Linked DNA regions of Homo sapiens: region 2 is linked to region 1. The links come from fine-mapping of genetic effects on plasma protein levels. A gene starts in region 1. The other region holds a variant in brackets. All regions are shown on one strand. Distances are between the middles of the regions.

Region 1 (11,775 bases):
CCCACTAAGCTCTCCTCCGAGGTCTGATGTGCAGCCCTGCGGTTCGGCCACCAGGTAGGTATGCCCCCCGTCCTGCTGTAGGGAGGCGTCCTCGGTACCTGGGAAGGCGCGTTAACCACAGGCTCACACTGTCCCTAGAGATTGCTGGTGTGAAGGTACAAGCCCCAACAGACTGGACTGCCTTATCTCCCTGGCTTGGCACCTGTGGGCACCTGAATAGGGTACCTGTCCACTAATCCTGGGGCACTTGGCCCAGTGTGGGTGGCTGGTCTGCCCTGTTGGGGACATGCAGGGCTTCGTGGCACACGCTGGGAACAGCCCTCCTAGCAGTCCTGCCCCCCACAGGCAGTGGAGCCAGGCCGGAGGGTGAGGCCCAGCTGTGTGGAAGTACGACTCTCTGGGCGGCACGGCCAGGAGGAGCTGGGCAAGACCGGAGGCAGGGAGGCCAGGAGGAGCTGGGCAGGACCGGAGGCAGGGAGGCCAGGAGGAGCTGGGCAGGACCGGAGGCAGGGAGGCCAGGAGGAGCTGGGCAGGACCGGAGGCAGGGAGGCCAGGAGGAGCTGGGCAGGACCGGAGGCAGGGAGGCCAGGAGGAGCTGGGCAGGACCGGAGGCAGGGAGGCCAGGAGGAGCTGGGCAGGACCGGAGGCAGGGAGGCCAGGAGGAGCTGGGCAGGACCGGAGGCAGGGAGGCCAGGAGGAGTCCCGGTTAAACGTTCTAAATGAGCCTAAGAGATGGAGCCCAGGCCCAGGACAGGAGAGCGGGCTGGGAAAAGCACGAGCCTTCCAAGAAGTGCAGAGCCTGGGACAAGCAGCCTGGCCTGGCTTTACTGGGCAGTGGTCAATGCTGTAGCCAGATCTGGCCCTAAGAGGAGCGCTTCACCAGGCTTCGGTTTACTCATTTGTAAAACAGGTCTACAAAGACCCCTTCCGTCTGATGTGTTAACCAGACAGTCATGGGAAACGCTCCACAAGCCGGGTTTCCCCGTGTTCTAAGAGCACCCGGGTTCATGAGTGCTCTTAGGGTACCGGATGCCATTAACTGAGAGGGGTGTGTGTGGGCCTTTGCAGAGGGTGTCCGGGGAGAGGGGGGACACAGCCCGAGGCTGCCCACGAGGTGCACAGCCCCAGCACCTTCTCCCTCCTGGCCACCTTCACAGGAGGTCACGATTATTCCCTTTCTCTCCTGTGAAAAGGCCCGGGGACACCGGGGATGGGATGGGGGTGGGGGCATCTGTGCCTGAGGAGTGCTGTGGCCTGCCTGGCATGGGAGGCTTGGCGGTCCAGCAGGGACCCAGGCCATTGCATCACGCAGGTGGCCCTGTCGGATCAGGGCTCCCCTGGGCTCCGCTCGGTCCTCACGCTGGGGATGATGAGCTCCTCTCATGGAGGGAAGAGCAGCGACACAGCAAAGGCTGAGGACCACCTGGGAACCACGCTGAGCCACCTGGACAGGACAGGGCACAGGGAACTGTCTGGTCTGGTGAGGGGCTGTGTGCCAGGCAGCCTCCGAGAGGCCCGCTGAGCAGGACTGAGAAGCAGATGCTGGTGGGCTCTCCCGGGCCCAGCCGGAAACACCCTTTCAGGGATGTGGGAAGGAGAGGTCCAGGCCCTCTGAGGATGGTTCCCCAGAGTCTGTGTGCCAACCACCCAGGCGGTCAAAAGTGGCACAGAGAAGAAAAGATTCCTTCGGAGGGGCCCAACGAGTGGGTGCTTGGTACAGGCTCCAGGGCACGCTGGTGCCCGCTCCAGCTGGTAGGCGGGCTGCCACTCTGGGCACAGGAGCGGCTGGGCAGTTTCTGTGCCACCGACAGTCCCATGCCCCACTCTGACTTCTGCCCCCAAAACTAGACCTTAGGGCCCCTCCTCTGCCTCAGGCTGGGAGACCCTGAGAACAGGGGTGTCTGCTCCAAGGAGACCCTCCTCTACCCTCCATGTCCCGCTCCCCACCCAGCACAGCCAGGTATAAAGCCAGGAAGGCCTGGGGGTGTCCTCCGAGAAGCTATCCTGGGCCGGGAGCCAGCCGGGTTCTGTGGCTACAACAGGGAAACAGTTAGAGGTGGTCCCAGCGACCAGGGAGCTCAGGTGCCAAGGTGGGGCGCTGAGACCCCAGCAAAGGAGCAAACAGACACACATCACATCACATCAGACATCAGGAGGCCAGACAGGTGCTCTGGGAACACCTATGCCCAGACACAACCTTGCAAGCAAAAGCAGGAGGCCTGCTGGCACGCGGGCAGTGATTCAGCATGAGGGCTCCTGGCAGCGCAGGGGCACCCGGGGTGCCACTCGGCTCCGCCCTTGCCTTCTGTGCCGTGCCCTGGCATAAAGGGAGGGTGGCCGGGTGCCCTGCTGCAGTGCCACCGTCCAGCTGGTGGCACCCAGGCCTGCTTCCTTGCCCATAAAATGGGATGACCACTGCTGTCACTGCAGCCTGGCCTGGCTGTCCAGAGGACAAAGGAAGTCTCAAAAGGGAGCCCAATATGTCCCGACACTGCCCTCTTTCATGAGCTAAGTCTCCTGTCACCCACTGCCTTTTCTGGTCCCTGGGGCAGAGGCTGGGAAGGCCCGCCACACACCCAGGGCCAACTGCTCTCCTTCCCACGAGGAAGTATCAGATCTCTACCCCACCTGCTCCGGGCCAGCGAGGTGCCCAACCCCAGGGGGTTCGCATTCCCTCTGAGGAGGTCCCCCTGGAGAAGTCTGGATGCAGGAGAGAGGGGACTGAGAATGGTGCCTACTAGGCCACAGAGGGTCCAGGGCTCCTGGGAGGATCTGCCGCCCAGGGGCCACCAGAGGGCGCCCGTTCCACGGAGCCCAGGCCCAGCCGACAAAGCAGGAGGGGACACTGGGCTTGGCTGCCCCAGGACTGCTGCGACCCGAGGGAGTCACCCTGTTTCCCTCAGCCCACGTGGCTCCCACACTGTCTTCTGTACCCTGGGTCCCGAAGGTTACTCCCCACTTCTGCAGCCATAGGGGGTGCAGGGAGAGAGGTTCCTGTCGGAGGGGCACCGACTGGAGAGGCAGTAATCCTGCCCAGTGCAGTCCTGGCCTTGCAAGTCTGGAGGAGGGTGGCACCCCGAGCCCTGGCAGCAGGCACTGGCCCATGGCTGGCACCGTGGTTAGACAGCTGCAGGGCGTTCGTACTCCCCACGCGGGGTGGACAGCATCCCCTGCCCCATCAGACACAGAGAAATCAACACAATCTGCCTGTCCTGGGTCCCTAACCCACTGCATTCCCCAACCCAAGAGCAGCACGACCCACACTCTCTGGCCCAGCCCCACATCAACTTCTCCATCTTGTCCTGCCCTCTCTTCTCACCCTTGGGAGATGGCCAAACTCTGCCACTCTGTCTCTCTAACTGGCAACAGTGGCCTGTGGATGCAAGGAAGGTTAGGTTGGCTCCTAAGGATGCAACTGCCCAGAGGACATGGAGGTGCTAAGAAGGGCTGGGGGCTAATGGTTTCCAAAGGAGCAGGGTTCAAGACTCTGGGCTGGGAGGGGCAGCCACTCAGCCACTCTGCTACCCTGGTGCCTGGGGAGGGATTCACCAGGAAGGCCAGGGATGCCTCTTTATGTGTGAGTAGAGGGGCAGAGAACGAACCCAACTGTGCCGAGGGCCTTGTGCTGCCTGGCATCCAGGTGTGCCCCCTACCTGGGACAGACAGAGCCCAGTGGGGTGAGGGGGGCAGCCTGGAAATGACAGGGTTGCCTCTGCAGAGGCACAGGAAGGCCTGTCCTGGGGACTTTGGAGGGGTCCTTGCAAGAACCTCAGGCTGGTGGGGAGGGCATCGGGAGATCCGCCAAGGGACTGTCTGCGGGTTCTGTTCCTTCTGTGGGGGGCGGTCAGGGGGCCCTTACAAGAACCTCAGGCTGGGGGCATCGGGAGATCCACCAAGGGCAAGGGGCTGTCTGTGGGTTCTGTTCCTCCTGGAGGGGCAGGGGTCCAGAGCCCGACTGCCTCCTCCCACCACTCCGCCCCCCGCGGCAAGGCATGGCCACAGACCCCCCTCACCCAGATGCACGGATCCTTCTTGCTCAGAATCCCCAGGACCATGGGCATTTCTGCGCTGAGTCCCCATCTGAGTAGCCCTCCACCCGCACTCCCACTCCCCTGGTTTCAGAGGAGCCCCCCAGAGCAGGAACCTAGTCTGTTTTGTTCTTGCCCACTGGGTCCCTGGCACGCGGTACAGACCGAGGTTGGTTCCCACACGTGGAAAGGTGAAGCTTGGGTTCCAAGAGTTCCTTAGCACACGGAGCCCACCGTTCCACCCACCCGTACACTTCTGTCCCCAAAGCTCCTCCGGGACCACAGGGAGGGAAGAGGCAGAGCCGCAGGCGGCTGCAGGGCTTAGGGGGCGCCAAGAGGGCCGCTGTTCTTACAAAGAAATGACACGGCCCCTGGGCGGGATCCAACGCGCCGACCACCTGCAGCTGGACTCGCGGCACGAGGCTGCCCAAGCGCCAGGCGGGGGCCGGCGCGTACAAGTTCTTCGACAGGAATCTCTACGAGGCGGCGGCGTTCCGCCCGCGGATAAGTGCCCAGCTCCCTCCCCACCCCTCCGCACTACCCCCCGAGGGGGTCAGCTTATAAAACCCACCTAGGCTGCCTTTGCTGGAGACCCTACGAGAATCCCCGGGCAGGACCGGAGACGCCTCCCAGAGAGGTCTGTACAGAGCAGAAGGGGTCCGCGGCCACCGTCAGCGGCGCCCCGAAAGCCCGGCCACGCCGAGCCCCACAGCGCCCCGACAGCCGGCCCCGGGGCTGGGACTCCCGGCCTGCAGGCGCGCTGGGCCGAGCGGCGGGCAGAAGACGCCCAGCTCCAGCCGTGGCCCGGGAGGAGCGCCCCGAGCCCGCAGCCCGGCGAGATCAGCTCCGCAGGGAAGAAGCCGGCGTGCGGGGGGCGGGGAGGGGCGGAGGACGACCGAGCGGGGCGGAGGAGACCCTGGCGAGGGAGTGCGGCGCGGGGCTTGGAGGCGAGGGCCGTGGGGTTGCAGAGGAGCCGCAGCGCAGGGAGCCATTCGGGGCCCGGGCGGCGGGGCGCAGGCGGCAGGATCCCGCGCCGGGGGCGAGTAGCCGCGTCGGGAAGACCAGGGTCCGGAGCCCAAAGCCCGGCCAGGCCCGGGTTCCCGGCGCCGCGCCCTCACTCACCCGAGATCTCCGCCTGGGGCACGTCGCTCAGGCTGAAGCCCTTGGCTCCGTAGATCTGGCGGACCTCGCCGCAGCTCCGGCTCTTGCTGGCCGGGTCCCCGCGGGCGCAGGCGACCAGCGCTGCGGCCGCACATAGCAGCCACCAGCCTCGGGCCCGGAGCTCCATGGCGGGGCCGGCGGCGCCCCCGGCCACCCGCCCGCGCCTCTCTCGGATCCTGGCCGGGTCCTGCGCAGTTCCCGCCCGCGAAGGGCAGAGCCAAGGTCCCGGCGCGCGCGGCTCGCGGTCCAGAGGCGGCGGCGGCCGAGGAGGCGGAGACAACAAAAGCCGGCGGCGGCGGCGGCGCGGGGCGCGCGGGGTGCGAGGTCCGAACGCTCGCTCGGGCAGCCCAGAGCGCGGCGGGCTAGCGCAGTCCCGGCTCGGCGCCTCCCCCGCCGCCGGCCCGGCCCCTAGGCGGCCGCGGGAGAGGAGAGGGGCGGGGCAGGGTGGGAGCGCAGGGGTGGGGGAGGGACTGGGAGCACCGGGCGGGGCGGGGCGGGGCGCGGCGCGGGGGCGCGGGCCGGGGCGCACTGGGCGCTCCTCTGGCTCTTAGGGACCCAGAGGGCCCGCCTGGCCGCGCGACTCTATCGATCCCCGGCGGGAGGCGGCGGAGCCGGGCAGCGCGGGGCCGCGGCCGGGGTCCCCGAGGGCGGCCCCCCACGCCCAGCGCCCAGGGCGGTGGCACCACCTGTGGGGGCGGGGACGGGGGCGGAGGGTGCGCGAGGCAGGGCTTCCCCCGCCGGACGTGACATCACGCCTCCCGCGCCCCAATCAGGGGCCTCCCCGCCCCCAGCCGAAATCGGCATCCCGCTCCCCGCTCCCTCCCGCGCGCTCCGGCTTCCTGCACCCTGGCAGCGCGCCCCGAGAACGCTCTCCCGGCGCCTCCGTACCCTCCGCCCGCCGGCCGCGCCTCGAGCCGCCGCCCCTCTCCCCGCCTGCACCCCGCAGCGGCTCCCTCCCCGCGCCCTTCCAGCCGTCTCGCGCTGGGCTCCGGCTCGCACCGGGGGCTTTTGTGGTGTGGGGGCTGCACGCAGGAAACTCGCCAAGAAACTCGACCTCACCTCTCCCAGTCCCAGGGAGCGGCAACAGATGGCTTAATTGTTGGACCTTGACAGCTGTTTTGGGGGGGTGACCCTCCACGTTCTTTGGATGCTGGAGAAACCAAAGTGATGGGGCAGGGCCGGTCTACTGGTTTGGGCTGCTGGGTGGGGCCAGATGACCTCTGGAGAAGGGATAGGGTTGGAACCCGGCGACTAGTTAGGCCACTGGGGGAGGAGGGTGGAGTGAGCCGGAGCAGATGCCTCTTTGAAGAAGGCGGGAGGGCTGCCTGCACCTTGTATGGTAGGAGGGCGCGTGGCTTTAGCTGCACATGGGGAGTTGGGCTGGATGGGGTCTGTAGGGAGGGGGCGAGGACTGCGATGTTGGTGTCTGGAGGGCTTCACTCCTTCCTTGGCTCCCAGACCCCCCACCCCGGCCCCCTGTTCTCCACATGGTAAGGCCTGGCGGTGAAGCCAGGTGCCTGAGCTGCAGAATTGGGGGCAGGCATAGAGGTCAGTATCCTTGGCAGAGAACCTCAAGATGACCCCCATGTACAGCAAGGGTGTCCTGATTTCAGGGCCTGTGGCATCACCTGGAAGCTGCAGCGGGGTCCGTGGTGGGGGTGGTGGCAACATTCCCTACCCCTTCTGTGCCTGGGGCTCTCAGCCGCTGTGTGGGGCTGGAGCAGGAAGGTGGGGTGCCCTCCCCCTGGGCTCTTGGGGTTTCCTGCCCTGCCTCCCAGAGAAGGTTGCTCCTTCACCCAGAGACACTGAGTCATTGCTGGAGAGGGAGGCTTTGGGGACCCAATCCAAGTGTGCATTTCCCTGCCCTCCCCCACATACCCTCTGCTGCGTCACATTTTGTGACTCACAGACCCCTGTTCAGTACATGCTCCAGGCTTGCTCCTTCTTGCCTGGGCCTGGCGTGGCTGCCTGCACACCTTATCCAGCACGGTCAGGAGCCTGGGCCCACGATCCCGCTCTCTCTCTGTGTGGTCTCACGCACTGCGGGATCAGGCAGGGCTGCCTGGGCCTAGGAAGCTGGACTTGAGGTTAACCCGGCCTGAGGCTCTATAGTTACCCCGTCACTGTCTACGCCTCCTCTTAATCTGACCAGGTTGGGTTATTCCTCCAGGCAAGTCCTTCCTCCAGCCTAGTTCTGGGCCTCTGGATGGCAGTGTGGACAGCAGGGCTTAGAACGCGATGGTGGCAGCCTCTGCCTGGCCCTGGTGACCCCTGGGTGGCTTCATCTCCTAAGGAAGTCCTTACCACCATCGCAGGTCCTGGAATCATTCCCATTCCGCAGGCCAGGAGACCTGTAGCCAGGGCCTTCCCTGGAGAGGATGCACATGCCGCCGGGGGCATTGGAAGCAAAAGCCGTGTTTGCACCTGGGAGGAGCCGCAGGATCCTGAGCAGCTGCAGCTACCCCTGCTTCCCTCCTGGCAATGCTGCACACGCCCGCTGTCACCAGGGCAGGAGCCGCCAGGCTGCCCGTGCTAGTCGGGTGCAGGGTCCAGACTGGGACTCTGGGAGGATGGGCAAGGCTGATCAGCCCCCTCTTCCACCGCTGTCCCTGGGGCCGCTCCACACAGGACACGTGGATGGGTTTGAGGACATAGTTGATGCCTCGAATCCCAGCCACCACAGTGACCCTTGTGGCTCTGACCAAGACCACCCCCTCCTGCTTTGGTGTCTTTGCCTGGCTAGACAGTGGGGGCACACGTATGCGACACAAAGAAGGAATGAATGAGCAAGTGAGGAAACACCTGAGAGGAAAAGTTTGTCCCTGAGAGTGGGCGTGTGGCGCAGCCTGGACCTGCTCTTCCACAGGTGCAGTGAGGGCAGAGGACACTTAGCATTGTCTGACGGGCTGAGGCAGGCAGTGCCTGTTGGGCCAGGGCGTGGGGGCCTCCCTTCCATGCCCCCATCTTCTGTGGAGGACCCCAGGTCCTGGAGGGCGTGTACTGCTGGCTTAGGGCCCACTCCTGCCTCTGCCTAGGGAGGGTGGGGGTCTGCGGGATGCTGAGCCTGGTCTCTGCTCAGAAGACACAGGGAGCGCCGGGGGGCCCGCAGCTCCCAGCCGTTCGGACGGCAGGTCTGCCCAGAAATTATCCTACTTTTGCTCCGTGGAACCCTCGTGAGTGTGCACGCCCTTGCCCGCTGCCATGGACGGACAGCTTCCCTTTCTGTTTGGTTTCAGGGATTGTCTTTCGGAGACTCCAAAAGTAAGTTTCCAAACAGACTGAGCGATTGTTGTCGCTGCCATCCATGGCTGCCTTCTTGTGAATGTCACTGCCTGTAGCATCCCTACCTACGAGAGCCCTGTCCTACTGGCCGTGGGAGGCAGGAGTGCGCGCGTGTGCCTGCAGACAGCAGGGGTTCAAGGGCGTGGACTAGGGCTGGCTGGGATGTGGCATCTGATCTGTTAGAGCACCCAGGAGGTGTTTTGGTGCCCTGGGGCATAGTGGAGGATGTAGGGTCCCCACACCTCTGTGGGGGTCTGGGGACCCCTTGGGCAGCAGCCTGAAGGAGGAAGTGGATACCCCAGCATGTGGCTGATGAAGGGAACATGGTCCCCAGGAGTGGCTGGCAGCCCTGGGCAGAGCAGGGTGGGCAGGACAGCCTGCCTGCAGAGCTGGAGATCTTTCTGCAAATGGTAATCAGGGTGCCTGCCAGAAAGAAGCGGGGCTCTGGGCAGCTCTACAGGGCTTAGCGATGGGGAGGGGATCTGCCCCAGGGCCTGCTCTGGCCCATGGACTCCACCTCCAGCTCACCCCGTGCTTCCTGCCCTGCCTTTTGGTGGTGACACTTGGGGAACATTCATCCGGTCTCTCATTCTGGTGCTGGCTCAGGGAGCCGCTGTCATCTCATGAAGGAGCTCGGCTCCAGACGACCCTGCAGGATTGTACTCGTGTGGGGTCTGTGAGGTGGGGTGCTGGTCCCTGCTCTGCCTGGACACTCAGTGGTACCCTGGAAGGTCTTCCAGCCCTGAGCCAGGACCCTAATCTACAGGAGTTCGGCTTTGAGTCTGAACCCTAGGGCTGCCCTGGCTTCCCCAACTTAGGGGCTGCCACTGGGCAGTGAGGGTGGGTGGACAAGGGCGCCAGCTGGGCAGAGTTTGCAGGACTGAGAAAACCTGGCACCATTATTCTCAAAGGAGGTCATACCTGCACCTCCCTCCACCTCTCTCCAAGCCCCTGCCGTGGGGCAGTCAACTTGAAGGTGAAGCTGTTTGGAGCCTGCTCTGCTCTGCTGGGTCCTTTTGATCAGCAGAAGTCTGGGCTGGCCTCCCTTATCCAGGTCAGAGGAGAGCAAGCCTTTTCAGTGAGGCTGGGTCACCCGTGTGGTAGGTGGGGTCAGAAGAATGCACCTGTGGCCCCTCCAAGAGCTGGCACCTGTTTCTCTAGTCTGAGGACCCTGGTAGCAAGAGATGACCCCAAACACTCCACTCTGGGCTGAGCTGGGTTTGGCCTTCCCTGTGGCTGTTTTCCTGCCCCTCCCCACCCTGACTCTTGGCCTGGTCTCCTTGAGGAGAGGGAGCAGATGGGGGCACTCCGGCACTGTCTGCTATGTTAGGACAAAGCACCCCACACACCTGGAGCTCAGAGACCCACGTGCACGCTTTGGTGTCCCCAGCACCAGCAGCTCATGGCTTTCCTGCCAGGTCCTGTCTGCTCTGTGTGTGGCTCCTGCCCTTCCCTCCACCTCTCCCCTTCTGGACCATTGCTGGCTTTTGACCTATTCCTCCTGCAGTCCATACTGCCTGGCTGATCATTTGAAAACCAGCTTCAATCCGAAGCCTGCAAGGACTCTGAAGATCAGAATGCAGCTGCCCTCAGCCACAGTGCAGGAGCCCCTGAGCCTCCCCCTCCTCTCAAGGGGTCCAGGAAGCTGAACGTTCTTCCCCTCCCCATTCAGATTCCAGGGTCACCTCAAACCTTCCCCTAAGCTTAGGGAAGGCCTAAAGTTGCCTTCAGCTCCAGAGGTCTGGAGTTGAAGGGTTTCATTTCCCTGTAGATGAGGCTCCTAAGGTCTGAGGGGGTCGGACTGTGGCCCTGTCCCGCCTCCCACTGCCCTTCTGCAGGCTTGTCTGAAGAGCTTGCTTGGTCCCCAAAGCAAAGAGCCGTTTCCAGGGTGAGGCCAACTGGAGGCATCCTCTGAGCTGCTCTGCAGGTAAGGGTTTGCCTCTGGACCATGCTGGCCTGGAAGGGTGGCACTGTCCACGCCACACTCCCAACCTTCCCTGCTCCTGGGGAGGGTGTCCTGGGATGCTCAAGGCCCTTTGAGGGGAGTTGTCCAGTTGGTGACAGGAACATGGCCGGGGCACCCTCTTCAGCCAACCTTTTCTCTGGAAGACCAGAGAACAAGACAGCAGGCATCTGTCCTCCTGGGCAGGAGCCACCAGCCTGCATGTGGGGAGGTGGCTGTGGCTTCCATGGCCCTGGCTGGCAAGCCATGGGCTGGGGGTGGGGGGGGTTGGGGGCCTGCACACCTGGCTGCGGAGGACACAGGCCTGTACTGTGTCAGGGCCTAGAGCAGCCAGAGTGCTCACAGTGGCCTGCCCTGTGTGCCGCCGGCCTGCGCTGGGTGGGAGGGAATCCAGGGGCTCAGTGGAAGAGCCGTCTCCTAAGGGGGAGGCCTTGCCAGGGCCCACCGAGCAGGGTCTTGCAACCTTGGCAGGTGAGGCTGAGTCACAGGCGAGAGAGGCACCTGCATGGTGCAGCTGAGGGAGGACTGTAGCCTCCCTGGCCTGCTGGTCCTCTCTGGGAATCCTATTTTCCTGAGGAGGCGAAACTGCCGCATCCGAGTGTCTGTTTCTCTGTGCAATAGTAATGCCCCGCTAGGTGGCAGGGGACAGGTGTCCTGAGCGTTGGACGGCTGAAGGGCAAGGGAGCCCCTGAGGCCTGTGGGAGGGAAGGGGTGGTGCAAGGCCTCTTCTGGGGACAGGGACAGGCTGCCTGGTCCCTGGGGAGGGGGATGGGGGAAGGGTTGGTTTTATTTGCCCTGCAGCCACCGGCACAACCAGAGGTGAAGGCAGCTGCAGGGCCCTCCTGGACACAGTGGGAGTGTCCAGGGAGGGAAGGAGGAGGGGGGCTGGAACAAGACACAGCCGAGGACTTGGGAGGAGGAGAGGCTGAAGCCGTAGACAACGGCTGAGGACCAGGGAGGAGGAGAGGCCCTGACCACACCCTGCAACCATGGCCTGGCCCATGGGTCACACCTACAGCCAAGCTCAGCCACATCGGGTCAGCTCTGGCTGGCCCACCCGTGCTGGGGAGTGGGCAGGCACTAGTGGTGGCGAGGCCCCTCCCTAAAGGTGGCGTTGACCAGCCCACCTGGCCTTGGTCCCCTACCTTCAACGAAAGTCTGGCAAAGGCATCCTGAGAAGGTGACAGAGGGAAGCCCTGCCCTTCCAGAGGGCCTCAGGCCAAAGTGCTCCCCAGACCTGGGGCTGCGGCCCAGGGAGGGCGGCCAAGGGAGGCTTAGACACCTGGCCTCTGGGCCTCATTTTAGGGAGGCGAGGTGACTCTCAGGCAGGTGCAGGGCTTC
Region 2 (8,285 bases), 34 kb before region 1:
GCTGGAGTACAGTGGCACAATCTCAGCTCACTGCAGCCTCCGTCTCCCGGGTTCAAGAGATTCTCCCACCTCAGCCTCCTGAGTAGTGGGATTACAAGCATGCACCACCATGTCTGGTTAATTTTTATATTTTTAGTAGAGACGAGGTTTCACCGTGTTGGCCAGGCTGGTCTCGAACTCCTGACCTCAAGCAACCTACCTGCCTCAGCCTCCCAAAGTGCTGGGATGACAGGCATGAGCCACCATGCCCAGCTGTGGCATCATGTTGGCCTGATTCTTTATTATTCATAGAGCCTTGCATTGGTGTCTCAATTTGAAGCAGCAAACACCTCTTTCAGCCTTTACAGACTGATTTTTGGCAGATAAAGATCTGTTGGGTCTCTGAAGGGTTGCCTCCAGGATTAGTTTAGTCACATGGCTGCTGCTGAGTCTACAGTGGGGTTTGTGGTTGGTGAGTCTATTCAGGGAAGGAGCAGGCATTGAACATGTCTGGTCCCTGGGCAGACTGGACTGCCTCTAAGACCTTGAGGAACAGGGCTAGCTCTGGGACAAGGGTGCACTCAGTCACTGCGTGAGTCCCTGACAGGCAGGACTGACCCCAGACTGTGGTTAAAAGGAGATGAAACCAAGTCACAAGGCTGGTTTAAGGCTCACAGCTGAGACTGAGGTCTGTAGGCCTGCCTTTGGGGGCACAGATGGGCATGCCTCCTGTCAGGTTCTTGGGGAGGGCAGGACTGCCTTCAGACCATGGCAGAGTGGGGCTGGAGCTGGGTCACAGGGCTCCTTCAGCCTGTGCAGTTGTAGATTGGTAGGCCTGCCTCCCCGCGTGCGGCCGTAGATTGGTAGGCCTGCCTCCCCGCGTGCGGCCGTGGATTGGTAGGCCTGCCTCCCAGCGTACAGCTGGGCTTGTCTCAGTATCCCTGGGTGGGCAGGACCGCTCCAGGACTGTGACTGGGGAAGGATGGAGTAAACTCAGAACCATTTCAACACTTCTTTTGGGATTTTGTGGCCTAACTCAGACGAGTGTCTCCCAGCACGTCCTTGGGAAGGCAGGACTGCTTTCAGACTGCAGCTGAGGGGTTGGAGCTGACTTACAGGGCTATTTCGGGATCTGCAGTGGAACCAAGGTTGGTGGGCCTGCCTTCAGGGGGGATGGACTGGGGTATCTTCCAGGAGATCCCTGGGCAGATGGTTCCTGTGTCAGGAGAGCCAAACAAGGCTGCCATTGAGTCCATAGGGGGATGAGGCCATTTCTGGATCTGCAAAGGACCCCATTTGGCGAGCTGCAACCTGGGTGCAAACCTGCCCTCTTAAAACAGCCCTTCTCAGTTGGGCTCCATCAGGATTTCCCAGCCTCCTACCAGAGTCCTGAGGCTCCCACGAAGGCACTTTTGTGTGTGGATGGCTGCCAAATTCTTGTTGCAATGGGTGGCTAAAAGCAGGGGGTCCCCTGTTCTGCCATCTTGCTGACATTACTTCCACTTGGTACTTTTTCCAATCTCCTTGTTTTTTCTTTTTAAAAATGGAATTGTTCTATCCTTATGGTTTCTATTTCTCCCCCTTTTCGCTTTGATAACACAAAATACTTATTTTATAGACCATTTCAGTTTGCTCTGTCATCTAAAGTTCTCAGGGTGCTGCTGGCTCTGGTGGCAGATTTTATTTTATTTTTTCATTTTGAAATTTTAAAGAATCTTGTAATCTCAGCTACTTGGGAGGCTGAGGCAGGAGAATCGCTTGAACCCGGGAGGCAGAGGTCGCAGTGAGCTGAGATCACACCACTGCACTCCAGCCTGGTGACAGACAGATACTCTGTCTCAAAAAAAAAAAAAAAAAGAATTTGAGTTCCTGTCCCTGAGGCGTTGTGATTTCTCTGAGGGAATCTCACTTCCTCACTGTGGACAAACCCTCTAGGTACTTTTGTATTTACTCATTATCTTTTGTCACCAGCCACTGATTCTTCAAAAAGGAGGATTTTTTTTTTCCTGCCCAGATCCCTAGGCAGCAAAAGCTTCCCTGGCCCATCTCTGGCAATAGGGAGAACTTCGTTTCTTTGCGGTTTCCAGGTCACCTGGGGTTCCAGTTCCAGCTCCCAGCCCTCACCCAGGTCTGTGGGTACCCCTCACCCCAAGCTTCTATCCTGAGAGGGTATTTCTGTGCCTGATACACCACTCTCCCCACTTCCCATTCATTGAAGCCTCTCACTTTGTTTTTCTTTTCAGCACATGAGGTTTTTAGCTCTCCTGTGACCTCAGATAGGTATTAACTTTGCGAAACTGACTTTTTCCAGAATTTCAACGTGTCTGTGAGGAGAGGGGGTTATTTTAGCTGAGTCTACTGTGTTGCTGTGATCTTTTCAAAGTCAACATTTCCCAGTGTTTCCTCCTGTTTCTTTTAATTCTCACATCAGGACGCTTGGTCTGACTTCCCAGGCCGATGCTGCATATTTTGACGTCTCCTATGAGTTTTTTACTGGCTCTTTTTTTGTGCTTTCCCAGATTGAGTGTAAACATGGGTTTGTGCTAGAAACCATGAGGGTTCCTGTTCATATTTCCAGGCCATATGAAAGAAGGAGGGAAATGTTTAGACTCACTGGTTTTGCTTTGTGGGGTGGTCTCATCTGGGAGGGGCTGCTGTGCACACGGGGAGAGCTTGCTGGGCAGTGACTGCCTCCGGCTCATCCACAGCCCTGGCGTCTGTGAAGCCTGTGTGCTTTCCCCTCAGGAAAGCTGTGGTGGCCTTGTTGGGGTCTCTCAGAATCCCACCTTCCCTAGACTCTACCCACTTCTTTGATGGCTGTGACACATGCTGTCTGTTGGAGAGATGGACGCCCAGTTATGGTCCTTCCATGATTTCAGTAGTGGCTTAGGGCAGGAGGAAGGTGGACTGAGAGGTGGGAGTTAGTCGTCTGTCCCAAACTCAAGGGAGCACTGCGATTATAAATGGTGTTTCTCGACAGAGGGCCTTGTCCCCAGATAAAGAATACTTAGGGTCACCTGGACAGGAGCAGTGTGTGCACCCACGGGTGTGTCTGTCTCTGTGTGAGTGCATGCGTGTATACTGTGCATGTATGTAATGTGTGCATGTGTGTATGGGCATGTGTACCTGTCTACATGTGTGCACGTGCATAGGCCTGTGCACATGTGCATGCATGTGTATGGGCATGTGTACATGTGAGTGCATGCATGTGCAGGAGGATGTGTGTGCACGTGTATGGATATGTGTGCTTGTGTGTGTATGCACAGGGCATTGTACGTGTTCATACCTATGTGTGTGCATGTGTGTACATGTGTAGGAGTGTGCACATGTGCATGGGCATGTGGGCATGTGAGGACGTGCATGTGCAGAAGTGTGTGCACGTGTATGGATATGTGTGCTTGTGTGTGCATGTACAGGGTGTTGTATGTGTTCGTTTGTGTGTGTAAATGTGGAGTGCACATGTGCATGTGTGTGCACCGTGTGATGGGTGTATGTTCGTGTGGAGCAGACACCCATGCTGGCCTGCCGGGGCTGCCTGCAGATGGTGTGGGAGACGCTGGGGCCACCCACCACGGCTGGGCTGAGCTGCTCAAGGGAGGCTGACTGAGGGGCTGCTCTCTGCCCATCAGTGTGGGTGGGTCAGTTTGTCTGTGGCTTCTGGAATTCCTGTGAGGAACCGAGAGGGACTGAGAGCCAGCCCTGGCTGGAAGGGGTCTCTCCCTGAGCAGCCTCTTGGGGCAGCACTAGGGTGGGCAGAACTTGGGAGCTCCCTGGTGGTCTGAGGTGTGGCCGGGAAGGCAGGGCTGAGACCAGCCGGGTGCCCCTGCCCACCCACTCCTGGCGTGGTGTCGGCTCTGCACAGAGTGCACACGCACCTGTGTCCTCCTTTCCCTGACATGAAAGATGCATTTGCCCAGGTTCAAAAAGGGCTTGTGGAAGTCTTGAAGCAGCTGGGCAAGGTGGTGCCTGGAAGCCTGAGATCCTGCCGGCTGGACCAAATGCGTTGTCCACAACTACAGCCGCTGATGAGTGTCTGGCTGCTCACCTGTCCCCTAGGGGCCCCGCTGAGCCCCCAGGCTGCATCCCCTGGCCCGCCACGGAGAGGACTCCACCCCACCCTCATTTCCCAGGGGAGGAGCCGGGCCTCTGGGACTTGCGGAGGGGCCTGCAAGTGAGGACCGTGGCTACCAGGGACCTGGCGGCTGCAGATGCTTTGTGGGAGGCCTGTGTGCAGCCCTTCGTCCTGCCCGGAGCTGGGACCTACTAAGCAGTGGAGTTCAGCAGGGCTGGGTGGAGCTGCATCTCCCTCCTGGGGTGCCCACCCACCCCTCTGTGCTCTCACGCTCACAAGGGGCCTGGAGGTCCCAGTTGCTAGGGGGCCCTCTATTCCTGGGTCCCAGATGATGGAAACGCAATGTTAAAAATGTTCACCAGACCAACCTGTACTGGCTGCAATTCTCAATAAAGCAGTTGAGGGACACACCCAGAACAGTGGGCGCTTCTGCCAGTGCCGCCGTGCCACTTAGCCTCTGGCCATGACCCCACAGGAACAGGAGCGGGGCTATAGGGAGCCCCTAGGGTTATACAGGACCCTCCGCCTCGAGAGAAAGGTGGCTGGGGACAAACTGGACCACCAGGGCATCCTTGGGACAATGCTGGTTCCTTCTCTCTAGCCCCTTGGGCATCTCTGAGGCCACCTGGCAGGAACCAGAACCTTCCAGGGGTAGAGGATCTCTGTGCTGTGTGTGCCCAGAGCAGGGGCAGGAGGCAGGAAGAGGTAGATGGGAGGTGGGGCCTGCTGGAGGCCATCTGGGTCTCCGTGCCCTGGCCTTTTCCTTCTCCCCTGCACCAAGGAGAGGGGCGGACAGACCGGAGTCTGTCCAGGGCAAGGTGGAGCTGCAGACAGGCTGAAGGGCGCAGCTGGCAGGGGCTGCACGTTCACCCCAAACACGGAAGTGTGGTCCATGCCCAAGCCCCAGACAGACAGACACACACACACATACGCACACATTCTCTCTCCCCCCGAGGCCTCGCCCTGCTGTAGGTTTCCAGCCTTTTATTCATACAAGGACTCAAAAGAACACACGTCACCC[G/A]CTGACACTGAGCGGTGGGGGGACCTTGTGGAGGAAGGACACAGCAGGCTTGGCCACTGCCCTGACCAGTGACCACTCAGGGCTGCCCCTTCCAGAGATGAGCGTAGGGTGGGGTCTGAGCGCCACCCCTAGGCCGTCTGTGTGCAGCGGGAGTGCTGCTGTCCTGGCGCCCGGCATCACTGTGCCAGAGTCCCCAGCCCACCCTGGCACTGGCAGGGTTATTATGGGGTGGACTTGCCTGTGTTGGGGGCTCCTGATCCCAAAACATCTAAAGTCAGGTTCCAGAGAACAAGCCATGGGGACCTGACCAGCAACCGGGGACCTCCGTCCACTGTGCGGGACGGTGATGAAAAGCAAAGCAGCACTAAGCGGCCTCCTCAGGGTCAGTCGGTTCAGGACAGCTGCCCCCAGACCCTCCAAGTCCTCCTCCCCCTGCAGGACCCCTTCCCAACACCACACCACCCCTCCCCAGGGCCGCCTGGCAGCTGGGGCACAGGAGGGAAGGAGGGCCCGTCCAGGCCTGGGGCAGGGCCCTGATGGCCTCAGTGAGTGACAGGAGGTCACCAGGGTCCAAGGTGGGCCCTGCGGCCCTCCGAAGCCATCTGGGAGGAGCGAACAGCTCTCCATGAACAAGGACAGGAAGTGTCAGTAAATGGATGCATGTTTGGAAAAGCCCTTAACTATCCAGGTCCCCGTGCCCTGCAGCTGGCTGGGTCGGGAAGGGACCTAGGCATTCCCGTCTGCAGTGCGGGGTCTCACCAGCCACCAGCATCCCTGTGAGCAGGTGACAGCTGAGGGTCACTCTGAGCCCTGACCTGTGTCACCGTGAACAGGGAGGCCCTGGTTCCTGATCTGGGTGAGGATGGGAGCAGGCGGGTCCTGGCTGCTCCTCAGCCCTCGGGGTCCTCCAACAGCCCTGGACCCCAGCAAGGCCTGCCCTGTGAGCCCTGTGTGCGAGGGGCAGCCCACATTGGCAGAGCCCACGCTGCCTCCCTGGGCCTTTGGGCCCAGCTTCCCCTCCTCCAGCAGAAGCGCAGGTGGGTCAGTGGCCCCTCATCTGCGCATGGAGGGCCCCTCACTGCAGGTCTGTGGGAGGACAGTCCTCAGACTCCTCAGCAGTGGTGCTGTCTCAGGCGTCACCCTGCAGACGCTGGGGCCCCTCAAGGGCGCAGGGAGGTGGGGCCGGGCTCTGCAGCCTGCGCTGAGGGGAGGGCATCATGCATCATCTCAGAGGCTCTGCCAGACCCTGGATGGCGGACACCCAGACAGCCCGTGCGGGGCTTCTCTGGAGGCTGGGGGGTGGGCCAGGGCTGGCTGGTGGGCTCTGCTGGGAGTCCCAGTGGGAGGAGGCGGGGAGGAAGGCACAGGCTCGCTGTGGGCTCCAGCGGGTTGCTTTGAGGCCTCCTCTGTAGGCCTCGAGGGGCTGCTTCTGCGGCGGTGCAGGGAGCTGGGGGGAGGGCTAGGCAGCCGGAGGTGCCCCTGAGGTCCCTGAAATACATGGCTTTTGGGCACACTGGCTCCCAGCTGACCTGAGGACCTCATACAAAATTAAAAGGCAGAAAGGCAGGCGAGGCCAGGCCTGGGGCTGGGACCTCTGCGCCTGCCCCTGCTCAGAGCCGCCGGCCCTCCCTGTCCCACCCCAGGCCTCTCCAGGCTGAGGTGAATTAAATATCGTCTGTGTTGTATTTTTGGCAAAGTCAGTCCTTGGCCTCTGTCCCTGGGGCCTTGGGGCAGTTACCGCCACCGGGGCCTGGCTACTGTAAGGGCCAGGAAGAGGAGGAGGGGCAGGAGGAAGGTCGGGGGCTGGGGGCAGCTGGCAGCCGAGGTCTTCTGTCCTTCCTGCTCTGACAGGCCTGGGAGGGCATGGGTCAAGGGCGTCCGGGAGCTGGAGCTCTTCCTGCTGACCTTCCGGCTGCAGAGGTCATCCAGACAGCCATCACCGCTGCCCGAGCCGCTGCCGTCGTCACCTGGGAAGGAGAGGAGGCTCCGGCAGGCAGGTCCCCACAGGAGACCCCAGTGCAGCACCACCCTGTAAGGGCCCGTGCCAGGTGACCCCAACATCCTTTCGGTGTGGAATCCCAGGACCAGCAGCACCTGATCCCCGCTGACCCCTGAGGCTGGGAGACTCTCACTCCCTGGGGCTGCCTCCCTTGGTCCCTGGAGCCAAAGCCAACAGACATCCCGGCCAGGCCTCCAGGGCGCCGCAGAGGTGCAGGGCTCGGTGATCGTGCCTGGGCAGCACAGCGTCCTCAGACTCACTGTGGTGATGCCGGAGCAGAGGGCCCCTCGGGTGGGGGAACCCGGAGGGCAGTCACACCCCTGTGGCACCCCCACCAACCCTGGCCCCTTGGCCGCCCGGCCAGGCCCTGCCCTCACTGGCGTCCTGGAAGTCCACGTCGTTGCCGTTGTAGGCGCTGCGCAGCCGGTTGGTCATGATCTTCAGCTGCATGATCTGCTGCCGGATGGTCATGTCCGGCTTGGTGATGTCCACCTCCACCTCGGGGTTGTTGATCTGGTTGGCCAGGCCGTCACCCATGACCTCGGGGAGGTACCTGGGGGAAAGGCAGGCAGAGCCCAGGTCACTGCTCCAGCCCCTGCAAAGGGCCATCACCTGAGCAGGACACTCTCCCACGCTCTGAGCCTGAGATGCCCAGCAGCTTCCAGGGACCGAGCAGAGCCCACACAGGCCGCAGAGAAGTGGGGCTCAAGCCCTCCAGCAAGGGACGTGGCCCCGTGCAGACAGCACCTGGCCCAGGCACAGCCCAATGGAGGCGGCATGGGAGGGAGGGCTGTGCCAGCCAGGTGGGCACCTACCGGCCTCTGGCCATCCCGTTCCAGCAGCGGTCATCACTGGCAGTGCTCAGGGCCATCTTCTCACTGCACAGTGTCCCTGGGAGGCTGATCCAGAAGTCCTGGACGTCGCGGAGCTGGGCCTTGGCTTCGGAGACCTGTGGGGCAGCAGTCAGGCCACTGGGCTGCCAGGGCCCGCCCGCCTCTGCCTGTCTGCCTCCCTCATGCCTGGTCCAGTGGACACGCAGGGGCCACTCACCAGCTTCTCCAGCGTGCCTGAAGGTGGCCTCTCCCGCGGGGCCAGCTTGCCCCGGCGCCGCTTCTCCTCAGGCCCGGGGCCCTGGGGGTTGACCTTGGGGTTCCCGCAGCCCTGGATGACCTGGAGAGACACTGCAGGGTCCTTGGGGGGTAGTGGGGCCCCTC

The links. PIP is the posterior inclusion probability: the model's chance that the variant is causal. The UK Biobank Pharma Proteomics Project read protein levels with antibody pairs (Olink). The fine-mapping took linkage between variants from a reference panel, not from the people measured, so its PIPs are less certain.
Region 2: its variant is fine-mapped to the plasma level of the GPC1 protein (UK Biobank, PIP above 0.99).

What each region holds. Positions count from the first base shown.
Region 1 is chr2:240,429,460-240,441,234 of GRCh38, reverse strand. It overlaps GPC1 (glypican 1), which reads right to left and starts at 5,572. Exons shown (of 9, transcript NM_002081.3): 1 at 5,151-5,572. The coding sequence starts at 5,316. RefSeq lists enhancers at 3,070-3,571, 3,623-4,199, 5,933-6,509, 6,909-7,203 and silencers at 5,324-5,383, 5,444-6,103.
Region 2 is chr2:240,464,812-240,473,096 of GRCh38, reverse strand. It overlaps GPC1 (glypican 1), which reads right to left. Exons shown (of 9, transcript NM_002081.3): 6 at 8,122-8,241; 7 at 7,887-8,020; 8 at 7,449-7,624; 9 at 5,021-7,039. The coding sequence ends at 6,807. It also overlaps a transcript of ANKMY1 not described here. Among named protein-coding and RNA genes, the nearest start is that of GPC1-AS1, 12 kb to the right of the region's middle. The variant G/A (reference allele first, on the strand shown) is at 5,073.